Homo sapiens: one gene and its partner. The protein of the gene in region 1 interacts with the protein of each later gene in a pairwise test. Each region holds a gene or a part of one and is shown on either strand. Other genes may lie near its edges.

What was found. Proteins that work in one complex are often made in the same cells at the same time.
Region 2: the proteins of BAHD1 (region 1) and KHDRBS2 interact in binary tests that used the Homo sapiens proteins (3 or more experiments, as listed by UniProt).

Annotation. Positions count from the first base shown.
Region 1 is NC_000015.10:40,464,945-40,468,768, forward strand, and holds the end of BAHD1 (bromo adjacent homology domain-containing 1 protein), read left to right. Parts: intron 1-390; coding exon 391-491; intron 492-996; coding exon 997-1,186; 3' UTR 1,187-3,292; downstream 3,293-3,824.
Region 2 is NC_000006.12:62,276,197-62,283,236, forward strand, and holds part of KHDRBS2 (KH domain-containing, RNA-binding, signal transduction-associated protein 2), read right to left. Parts: intron 1-7,040. UniProt on the Homo sapiens protein: RNA-binding protein that plays a role in the regulation of alternative splicing and influences mRNA splice site selection and exon inclusion. Binds both poly(A) and poly(U) homopolymers. Phosphorylation by PTK6 inhibits its RNA-binding ability.

The DNA.
Region 1 (3,824 bases):
CAAGCTGTGTGCTAAAAGAGGTGACTGCCATCTGTGTGTGCCCTGGGCTCACCTTTTATTTCACTTTCCCTTGCAGGGACTTTCCATCTAACTGGAAAGATGAAGAACATTTCCCCTCTCCTACGCTAGGCAGGGCTGGGGTTTGGGAGGTCAGTGACAATCAGGGGCTAGAGCAGATACCTGGCTATTCTGGAGAAGGGGGGGACCTAGAAGGGACTCAGGAGGAATGCCTGGAGGCAGTAGGTGAGGCATACTTAGGCTGAATTTCCAGGGAAGCTTGCTGGAGTCATCTCAGGTCAGCAGGCCCAGCAGAGGGGTTAATGTCTGCCTTGCTCTGGGAATGAGGTGCTTTCCAGCCCTGGTAACAACCTCCACCTGTCTCCCTTTGAGCCCTTGCAGAATGAAGTGTTTGCATCGCGACATCAGGACCAGAACAGTGTGGCCTGCATTGAGGAGAAGTGCTATGTGCTGACTTTTGCCGAGTACTGCAGGTAGGTGGTTCCCTGCACCCTCTGGCTGGCCTCTTCCCTCAGGCTCCCCAGGCATATTTGGGGCTGCTTGGAATTCCCCGAGAGGATCTCATTCTGCTCTCTACCTGATCTTACTCACTGAGCCTAATCTCCCAGAACTTACTTCCCTATTGCTTGCCTCTACCATCTGATATTTTTTGGAAGAAAGAAGAAAAATTGTGTTGCCACACTGAGGTAGAATGGTTGGAGCAGAGTTGGGGGGTAACATTACTGCTCTTGGAAAAAATTTAGGCGAATTGGCAGGCAAATGGAGAGAGGCCCTGGCAAGTGTGGTTCTCCAGTGACAGAGAAGATAGCCTGGTGGTTGGCAGAGCAGACATCATCCCTGGGATGGGTGGAGACAGTACCACCCCTTGGGGAGCTAGGATAGCCTAGCTCTCTGGGTCGGGTAGGGTAGGGTAGGGAAGGAATTGGTCTTCCTGCAAAAGTGGCTGGAGTAAAGACAGTGAATGGTATCTCTCTACAGGTTCTGTGCCATGGCCAAGCGCCGAGGTGAAGGCCTCCCCAGCCGAAAGACAGCACTGGTTCCCCCCTCTGCAGACTATTCCACCCCACCCCACCGCACAGTGCCAGAGGACACGGACCCTGAGCTGGTGTTCCTTTGCCGCCATGTCTATGACTTCCGCCACGGGCGCATCCTTAAGAACCCCCAGTAGCCTCCTCATGCCCATGCTGGGGCTACCCATGGGCAAGTGGGGCTCGGGGTAGGGGGCACTGCTTGAAGCACAGCACTTGGTTAGGGGGCCACAGAGGCCTAAGTTTGCTGGCCTGTGGTTTTCTTGGGGGGGAGGGCAGGGGCCCCTGTGGGTTCTGGGCTCCAGGGGAGGGAGCTGGGGAGGCCAGGGTATAAGAAAAGCATCAGAACTCTCAGCTTGGCCCAAGGTACCTTCTGTGGTTCCCCTGGGTGGAGATTTCCGAAAAGTAGTCTTCTCTGAGGCTGGGCCAAGCCTGAGGGAAATGGGGCCCTAGGAGGGTGGGGGCGGGAAGGAGGGGCAAGGTCTTTCAGGAACCAGACCCAACAGGCCCTTCTGTAGCCTCCCCCTTGCCCTCAAAGGGGGAGTGGGGGCCAGCTTTACCTCACCCACTGTGACCCGCCGCTTCCCCTTCAGCCTGGGACCAGGCTTTCCTAGATCCCAGCACAGCTCTGAGCTTGTTCCTTTGAGGCATAGAGAGCCAGAGTCTGGCTTCCAGAGCATTGACTTCCTCTTCCTAGACTTGAGGCCTTTTCTCTGGCTTTCCTCCTTTGCCCTGCAGTAGCAACTGGTGCTGGGACAAGTTGACCCACCTCTCACAGTCATGGGTGTGGCCCACTTGTGGGAGTCTCCTGTCCACCTCCCAGAGACGGCCACCCAGCGGGTCTGGCTTCCCAGAAAGTTAACTGATGATTGTGGGGTTTGTCATATCTGGGAGGGAAGATGGGTGCTGGGAGAGGGTTGGGGGCAGGGGGCAAGGAAAATTGCTACCTGATTTGTTGAAGATTTTTCCTCTTGCCTTACACATGGAGGTTCCAGGAAACCTCTTGCAGAACTTCACACGTGATTCTTCAAGCCACACCCACCTGAAATCAAACCAAAGGAGTGCTGTGGCTCCCCTTGCCCTGCCACCCTTTCCCTAGTCTTTTGTAGATTGCACTAATTTACATCCTAGCAAGAATCAACACTGTATCAGTCCACGGACCTGCTGAGCTGCAGCCACTTGCTCTAGGAGCTAAGGACTTGCATTTTCAGTTTGTTCCTGTTGCCCAGAGGCCCTGTTCTCACCTCATGCTGCTCCCCAGAGTAGACTAACAGGCTCAGTCCCCTGTTGTCCTTGTGGAGACTAGGCCTTGGCCCTGGCCCTGAGACTCTGTGAGGGGGCTGGAGCAGCCTGGTTATTTCCTATCTGTACCAAAGAGGAGTATGGTGGGAGAGGGAGTGGAGTGCAGTGTGGCTTGGGCCTGGTGCTGGGAACCTGCTAGCTGAGCACTTCCACAAGGGCATACCCCTGGGGGCAGGGGCTGGGGCTGAGAACTGCAGCCCTGGGTCTTCCCTTAGGGAGGAAGGGCAGATGAACCCAGCAGGCTTAGGAGGTGGCACTGGGTGAGGACAGCTGGGCAGGGGCTGCAGAGGGAGGTGGAAATGAACCCTGAGGGCTCCCCCAACTTGCCATGCCCTGTCCCTTAGTAGATGAGTTGCTCCTGATTGGTCATTGGGTTTGGGTGAGGCCTGGAGGCTTCAGAGGTGAATTTATGCTTGGGAAGCCTGATCCCAAACCTGAAGGGAAGGGACTTGGATCTCCTTATATTGAATAAGCTGTTTGGAGGAAGGTGTCTGTCTGGGAGGATGGGGCAGTAAATGAGGTTGGCAGAGTGGCAGTGGGGGCTCTGCAGAGCCAGCCTTGGAGCCTGCTCATTCTGGGCCCTTGCTGCCAAGGAGCCCAGCCTCACCTAGCAGGAAAGGAGATGAAGGCCCTCCTCCCAGGAGGTAGGGTCTTGGCTGCCCCGAACTTAAATGCTTTTGAAATCTCTTAGATGTGGAAATATTTTTTCGAACCTGAAAATGCAGCTGGTAGAATTTCAATGGAAGCATAATCCATGTAAAATATATTTTAGTTGATATTTTGTAAAATGCACTTTTTGTGTGTGTTGATCCTGGTTTCCCAGATCTGTATTTCAGTGTTTACAAGGGAGGAAGGACCTTTCCTCACCTCCCTTTTGACAGAGATTAGAAGTACTTCTTTAAGAAAAAAATAAATTTGAGAAATTGTATTGATTTAGAAAAGGATCGTTTCCTGTGTGTCCTGTCATCTTTTGGTGTGTGGGTGTGGAGAGACCCACTATTCTTATTTCAGAGGTCCCTCTTAACCCCTGTGGCATGGATGCTCACCAAGGCCAATGAGCAAAGAGGGCAGGGAAGCAGAGGGAAAAGAGAGTGAGGGAAGGAGACAGAGGGACTGGGAACTTGGAGTTGACTTCTTGATTTCATGGTGGCCACAGCTGCCTGCTTAGGTCTGTGTGAAATACTTCAGTTGCCAGCCCTCACCTGACCAGTGACCTGGAAATTGGTCCCCAAGTAGGTACATGGCAAAGATACCTTCTTATCACTGGCCTCATGCAGTGGCTCCTGCCTGTAATCCCAGTGCTTTGGGAGGCAGAGGCAGGAGGGTTACTTGAGCCTAGGAGTTTAAGACCAGCCTAGGCAACATAGACCATGTCTCTCGAAAAATTTAAAAATTAGCCCGGCATGTCAGTGCATGCCTATAGTCTCAGTCAGGAGGCTAAGGTAGGAGGATTGCTTGATCCCAAGAGCACGAGGC
Region 2 (7,040 bases), on another chromosome or scaffold:
CATTTCTGATAACAGTATAATAACACCAGCCAATCTGTTTCAAAGTTATTAAATTCTAATACCTCAGAACATACAGATAACATTTAAATCAAGCTATACTGTCTTCTGTTTCTGATCAAACGTAAAATTTGCTCACTTCTAAATGTTAAACAAAACCCTGACTGCCTCAAGACCCAAGAGAGGGCCTACAGTTGTTCTTTGCTTCTAGAAGAATTCAGCAAATGTAAGCAGTTCTCTAAAAAATGTGGGGAAAAAAATGCCTCAGCAAACCACACAAAATTATCCAATCACTTTTTGGGTCCAAAGAAGTCTGAAATGTTCCCTCTGCTCTGCCACCACATCACTAAGCTCTCTAAGAAGCAGTCAATGTAAGTCATTCAGAAAATGTAGTAGGCTGTCTTGATGATCCTTAATTCAATTCTATACTAAGGTAAATTCCCCCATTCATAAATTTATTTGACTTTTATAAGCTATACTTATATTTTATGATATCATATAATAATTCATCCAATATTTGTATTCAGAAACATATTTTAGAAGTTAATGGCAACAACAACATTGATCTTCTAGATAAAATGTGCATACTAATAGCTGACATTCTTTCAAAGCCTAACATTGGGTCTCTATCACAGGAGACAATGTGGTGTAATGGTTACACGTGGCATCTAGGTGAAAAGGCCTGGGTTTCAACTTTACAATTTCTTTGCTGTGAGACCTGATATAAATTAATTTATCTAAGCCTTAATTTGTTTAATTTGTAAAACTAATGCTAATAACTACACAATAAGGTTGGTGGGTAGATTACTTGTGGTAATGCATCGTCTAGTACAGTGTCTGGCAAAGAGTAAACTCAATAAATGTTGAGATGATGATAATGGTAATAATGATAAATCTCTCATTACCATAAACAACAGAAGTTATGACTTTCTCTGAATTCCTATATCAGTGGTCTCTAAAATTTCTGTAAAATCTATCAGACCTTCCATATACTTATTTATATCATATATGTATATATATAAATATCTGTCTATATATGTAGTTGAATCCCCTATAGATTATAAACCCCATAAATTAAACATTTGATACTTCATTTATTAATAGCACATATCATATGCAGTTTTTTGGGTTTTTCTGTTGTTTTTGTTTTGTTTTGTTTTGTTTTTGAGACGGAGTCTTGCTCTGTCACCCAAGCTGGAGTGCAGTGGCGTGATCTCGGCTCACTGCAACCTCCACCTCCCGGGTTCACACCATTCTCCTGCCTCAGCCTCCCGAGTAGCTGGGACTACAGGCGCCCGCCACCACGCCTGGCTAATTTTTTTGTATTTTTAGTAGAGATGGGGTTTCACCGTGTTAGGCAGGATGGCCTCGATCTCCTGACCTTGTGATCCACCTGCCTCGGCCTCCCAAAGTGCTGGGATTACAAGCGTGAGCCACTGTGCCCGGCCCATATGCAGTTTTTAACAACACACATTCAAGGGCATATGTGATTGTGTAGTCAAATGCAGTAGAGTACTAGTCTGATGGAATTAATCCTCCAAACTATAACTAAAATATAAGGTAAATAGCCTAATGCTTTTATGATTGTTTATTATCTCTCTATACTGCAAAATCTTTTTGGAAGTACTGTTATGAGTCAAATGGAGGATGTGCTAAAAATGACTTCTTTCCTCCAAAAAAGTTAATAACAATGGAGCAAGAGGATGCTTGGCCATGACCTCACAAGTATTTGGCAAATAAAAGATGCAATCACTACAGAACTCTGCACTTGAGAAGATGAGGAAGCCATATAATATGGATATTTGCTAACATTAATGTAGAATATCATCTATTAGTGGTTATTCCACCTCTAAAAAAATTTCCAAATTCAGTTTATTTTATTGGAATTCAGCAGTTTGTGGGGAATAGTACCAAATTTTGATCTATGAAATATATTAAATATTACACGGTTTATAGCTTTAAAAAATCAAACTGATGCCAGAATATAATTCCAATGAAGATATATTTCTCATAATATAGCCAAACCAAAAAGAAAGATCAAATTCAGTGCTCAAATAAGTGCAAAAGGAAAGCTGATGATACTACACAGTTATTTCCAGGGGTTTCTAAAAACTACCTCCAAACCTCACTTCCTCCCCTTGTACAGCTGCTGTGGGAACAAACAGCTTCACTATAGACTGTATACATAAAGAGAAACTGAGAATAATGATCAGTTATGTTCCCATTCTCAGGTACCAGGCCATAAAAAAACCTTAAAATCAGATAAATATAGAGAATACTACTGTGTCCATTATCTAGATGAATTTATCGTGGTCATGCTCATTCCTATATAACTAGTCAATGAAATATTAATATTAATGTACAAGGCCTAATAGTCAATCAAAAGAAAATTTCATAAAAATATAAATTAAAACACATAAATGAATGCGGATGGGACATTACAGATAAACATAAGAAGACTTTCTTTTCTAGAAAGTGGAAAAAAGGAGGCCAATTGTCTCAGTACCACAAGATTCGGGAATGACATTTCAATGGTTTTCTTAGATTTTCTTTGTGCCGCGTATGTGCCAGACTGAGTGCTAGAAAAGCCAGCAACTCAGAAGTATTAAAGGCAGACACGGCCAGGCGTGGTGGCTCACGTCTGTAATCCCAGCACTTTGGGAGGCCGAGGTGGGCGGATCACGAGGTCAGGAGATTGAGACCATCCTGGTTAACACGGTGAAACCCCGTCTCTACTAAAAATACAAAAAATTAGCCAGGCGTGGTGGCGGGTGCCTGTAGTCCCAGCTACTCAGGAGGCTGAGACAGGAGAATGGCCTGAACCCGGGAGGCGGAGCTTGCAGTGAGCTGAGATTGTGCCACTGCACTCCAGCCTGGGTGACAGAGCCAGACTCCATCTCAAAAAATAAATAAATAAATAAATAAAAATAAATAAAAAGCAGACACACACAAAGCCTCAATCCAAACAACAAAGAAACAAATGGGCAGATTCTCAGATACCTCACAGAGTAAAGAAGGACTTCCCTGTACTATCTTTCCAACTTCCTGCATATGAATAATTTTTCAAAATTGACTTAAAAACAAATGGAAACTTTCAAAGTGGCCTCCTGAGGTTTTGAATTATGCAAAGATAAAATATGACTGAATTAGTATTATCATTGTAAGTGACAGAATTACTGAAAAATTGTTTCTGGAGATATCTTCTAAACACATGGTAGGAGAAAAAGGAAGATATGAGGTCAGCATCATTCAGTTAAGAAACATTTATTGAGGCCTTCTACATATAAGACTGAAGGCAAGCATTAAAAATTCAAAGACAGAAGTCATAGTATGGCCCTCAAGCTTAGAGGGGGAGACAACCAAGATCAAAAAGAATTGCATGTTGCAATGTAGTAGTGGTGGATAGGTTGAAAATAAAACCAGAAGTGCACTTAATTTATAATGAATTAGATGAGAAGCCATTATGAAAGGCTTACTAGAAGAAGGAATAGCAGTACTCAGTTTTATTGGATGAAGATAAATTATAATCATGGAGAGAAGCTAGAAAGGGCATTCTAAAGTGAGGTCTTAGCATGTGCAACACCTTAGAGATAGGAGAGGACAGAGAGAAGAGCAAGTGTTATTCACATGCGGAAGAGGTAGCAGAGGGGCCAACAGGGGGCTGGTTCTCAAATCTGATGGAGAAAAGCCTGTTTGGCCTCTACCTGGCACCATCACATACCAGGCACTGTGAAAAGTGCTGCTAATATAGTGATGAAAAAGACTTGGTTCTGCTCCTCAAGAGGAGACAGAGAGGAGCTGTTTCTCTAGTGAGAGAGACAGGCACAACCTGATCATTCTAAAATAACAGTTTGAATAGTGATCTAGAGGCGTTCGTTATGGGAATGAGGGGAAAATATCTAGCTTTCTGTGAATAGGTATGGGAATGTCAAGGGAGTGTAGAGAGTGAATTATAAGCAGTTTGGTATACCTGAGAGAAATTAAGCAGAAAGGCTGAAGAGATGCTTCTGGAGAGGTAAGCATATTATAAGAACGTCAAGGGGTATGGACTACGCCTTGCAGGCAATGGAAATTATTAAGAAGTGTGACATGGTGAGACTTTAAATGAATTACTGTGACAGCATTGTGTGTGTTGGTGTGGGAAGGAGGGAAATGAAGGATGATGAGGGCAAGAAACGGTCAAAAAAGGAAGTAAAACCAGTAGAATATAGTGCCCAGAAGACAAGGAAGATGGAAAGAAATCAGAAGAAGGTCAACAGTGGAAAGTGCAGCCAAGAGACTTGATAAGGGGTCAGAAAAAATTTACTCAATTTGGCAATATGAGATTATTCTGTCACTAGGGTCATCAGTTTCAGGACAGTGATGAAGACAGAAGCCAAACCGAATAATTCTAAAAAGGTAAATTAAGAAAGTGAGGCAGCTAGTATATACTAGTATTATCAGAAGTTTGAAGGAAACAAGGAAGGACAAATGTCAAGAGAGATTATTTTCCAATATTTGTGGCAAGTGAAAGAAGTATTCTATTTCTTCAAATTATTCACATTGAATCATGTTGACAGCTGCTATAAAGAAAGAGTCGATCGGGAGAAAGAGTAGGAGATACAAATAAAGGATTTAACTACAGAATGAGTCCAGAGATGAAGAGCATTTGGGTCAAGGATATGGATGGCAAGTCAACCCTGAAGAAAAGAAACATTTGGTCTTCTGGGAATGAAAGACAATGACGATGGCTATGGAAGTTTTTAGGTGGTAGGAGGTTGAGGAATAGCAGAAGAGAGATATCCATTTCCTCCAATAAAACAGATGATGAAATCACCTGCTGAGAGTGAAGAACATGTGGGTTTAAGATGAAGCCTGAATAGGTCTGAAATTACTCTTGAAATAAATAGGACCAGGGCTAATCAAGCCCATGGTTAAAGACTGACAAGTGATCATTTACTAAACATGATATTTTTAAAACCCTCAATCTAATCCTTTTTCATAAGGTAATTTATTTCATAATTTGCTTTATGAGTTCAAATGTAACTCAGCAGTAATCTAAAGTAAGGCAGTGTTTATTTTACTTATTTTCTCAAATTGAGGTGCATCATCATGTTATGTTTGTTTAATTTCTGCTTATATTTTTGTTATACACATAAAAATTATTGGCCGGGCACAGTGGTTCATGCCTGTAATCCTAGCACTTTGGGAGGATGAGGCAGGTCAATCACAAAATTCGGAGTTTGAGACCAGCCTGGCCAACATGGTGAAATCCAGTCTCTACTAAAAATACAAAAATTAGCCGGGTGTGGTGGCACGCACCTGTAATCCCAGCTACTTGGGAGGCTGAGGCAGGAGAATTGCTTGAACCCAGGAGGCAGAGGTTGCAGTGAGCCAAAATCGCACCACTTCACTCTAACCTGGGCAACAGCGCAAGGCTCTGTCTCAAAAATAAAATAAAATAAATTTTTAAAATACGGCTTATGTTATCACAAGCATCACAAGCAGAAGTTGTTTTTTGTTTGTTTGTTTTTGTTTTTGTTTTTTCATCTTAAAAGAACCCTGCCTGGTAGGTATCACTTTTCCTGTTATATAGATGAAGAAACTGAGTATCAGAGAGGTGGAAAAAAAATGACACATCCTTTATTTCCCAGTAGGTAGAAGTGTCAATAATCACTCCCAAGTGTTTTTCTTGTCAAAGTAGAAATTTTCCACTATATCATAAATTGTCTTAATTGAAGATCAAAGATAACTTGAATTTAATTTTTTGCCCATGTTTGTTTTGTATTTAAGAAACATAAGATTATCCCAAGTCTATTGGGAGAAAAAGGTGATTACGTTAATCAAAAGAAAAGTCACTTTAAAGAGTCACAGGAACACTATTTTTTAACCAGAAGCTGTTTTAGACATGACACTAATAACTTTCCTTAATTAAAAAACTTATCAAGCTTTATGAAAAATATTTAAGAAACACGATCTAACTAAAAAATGGTTCTTATTGATAATCTAAATGTAGTTAACTCACAAGTTTGCATGTGTGGTAAGTATTAATCCCTCTTTTCTTAATATTTTTAAGATCTCATTTATATCTGCAGAAATAAAGGCCAAGTCTAGATGGCAGGTCAAACTTTTTACTAAAGTTTGAAAATAGCGCCTACAGTTTTTTGAAAACCATTCGAACTGCTGGAATATTTGGCAATATTTGACATCGTCATATAATGAGTCAACCAAAATGGTTATGATTATTTCAGTGCTTGCAAAGATTTCAGGCTAGAAAATCTTCCCCAAACCTCTCTTAATTGGACAAAAATTTATAATGCTCCTAGGAGTATGGAATCACCATAACTGAATATATAAATCTGAACAGATCTATGTCTGTCAGCAGACACAGAATATTTCCAGATAATATTTTCATGTATATACATTTTTGGCCTCAAACATTAATAGTAGTTCAATAGACTTAAGAACATAAATCTGTCCCCAGTACCCAAAATAAAGTATATGCCTCAAATTACATTTTAGTGCCATAAATATATTATTAATCATTAAACTAGGAAAGAATGAAAAAAGTTTCAAAAATGTGCAGCCATTGAATTTTTGTTCCGAATATACAAACATCACTTCGTTGTATCATCAGTAGCCTGAGACTTAATTAGAATTGCAAAAAAACATATACATCACTTAGTCCAACTCCTTAATTTGAGAGACAAGGAAACTGGGCCCAGGGAAAGAAAGCTTACCCAGATTCAGTTGAGGTTAAAGTGGAATTCAAATCTAGGTATCTAGATTCACAGTTTAATGCACTTCCCAGAAGCAGAAAAGATATAAATAAACTTATGTAATTTCATCTGGCAACCAAATTCAGACACTGAGTAGAACTTTAAGGATAGTCCTGAGTTTGCTGTTTTATCATATTCAAAAGCACCTACCATAACAAGTGGATAACTAAACAACATTATAATCGCAGGATGAACATTATTTTAATTATTTAAGCATATTATAAACAAACTTCAAACTACATTATTCAAGAACTCTTCTGAGTAACAATCAACTGAAATCATTCT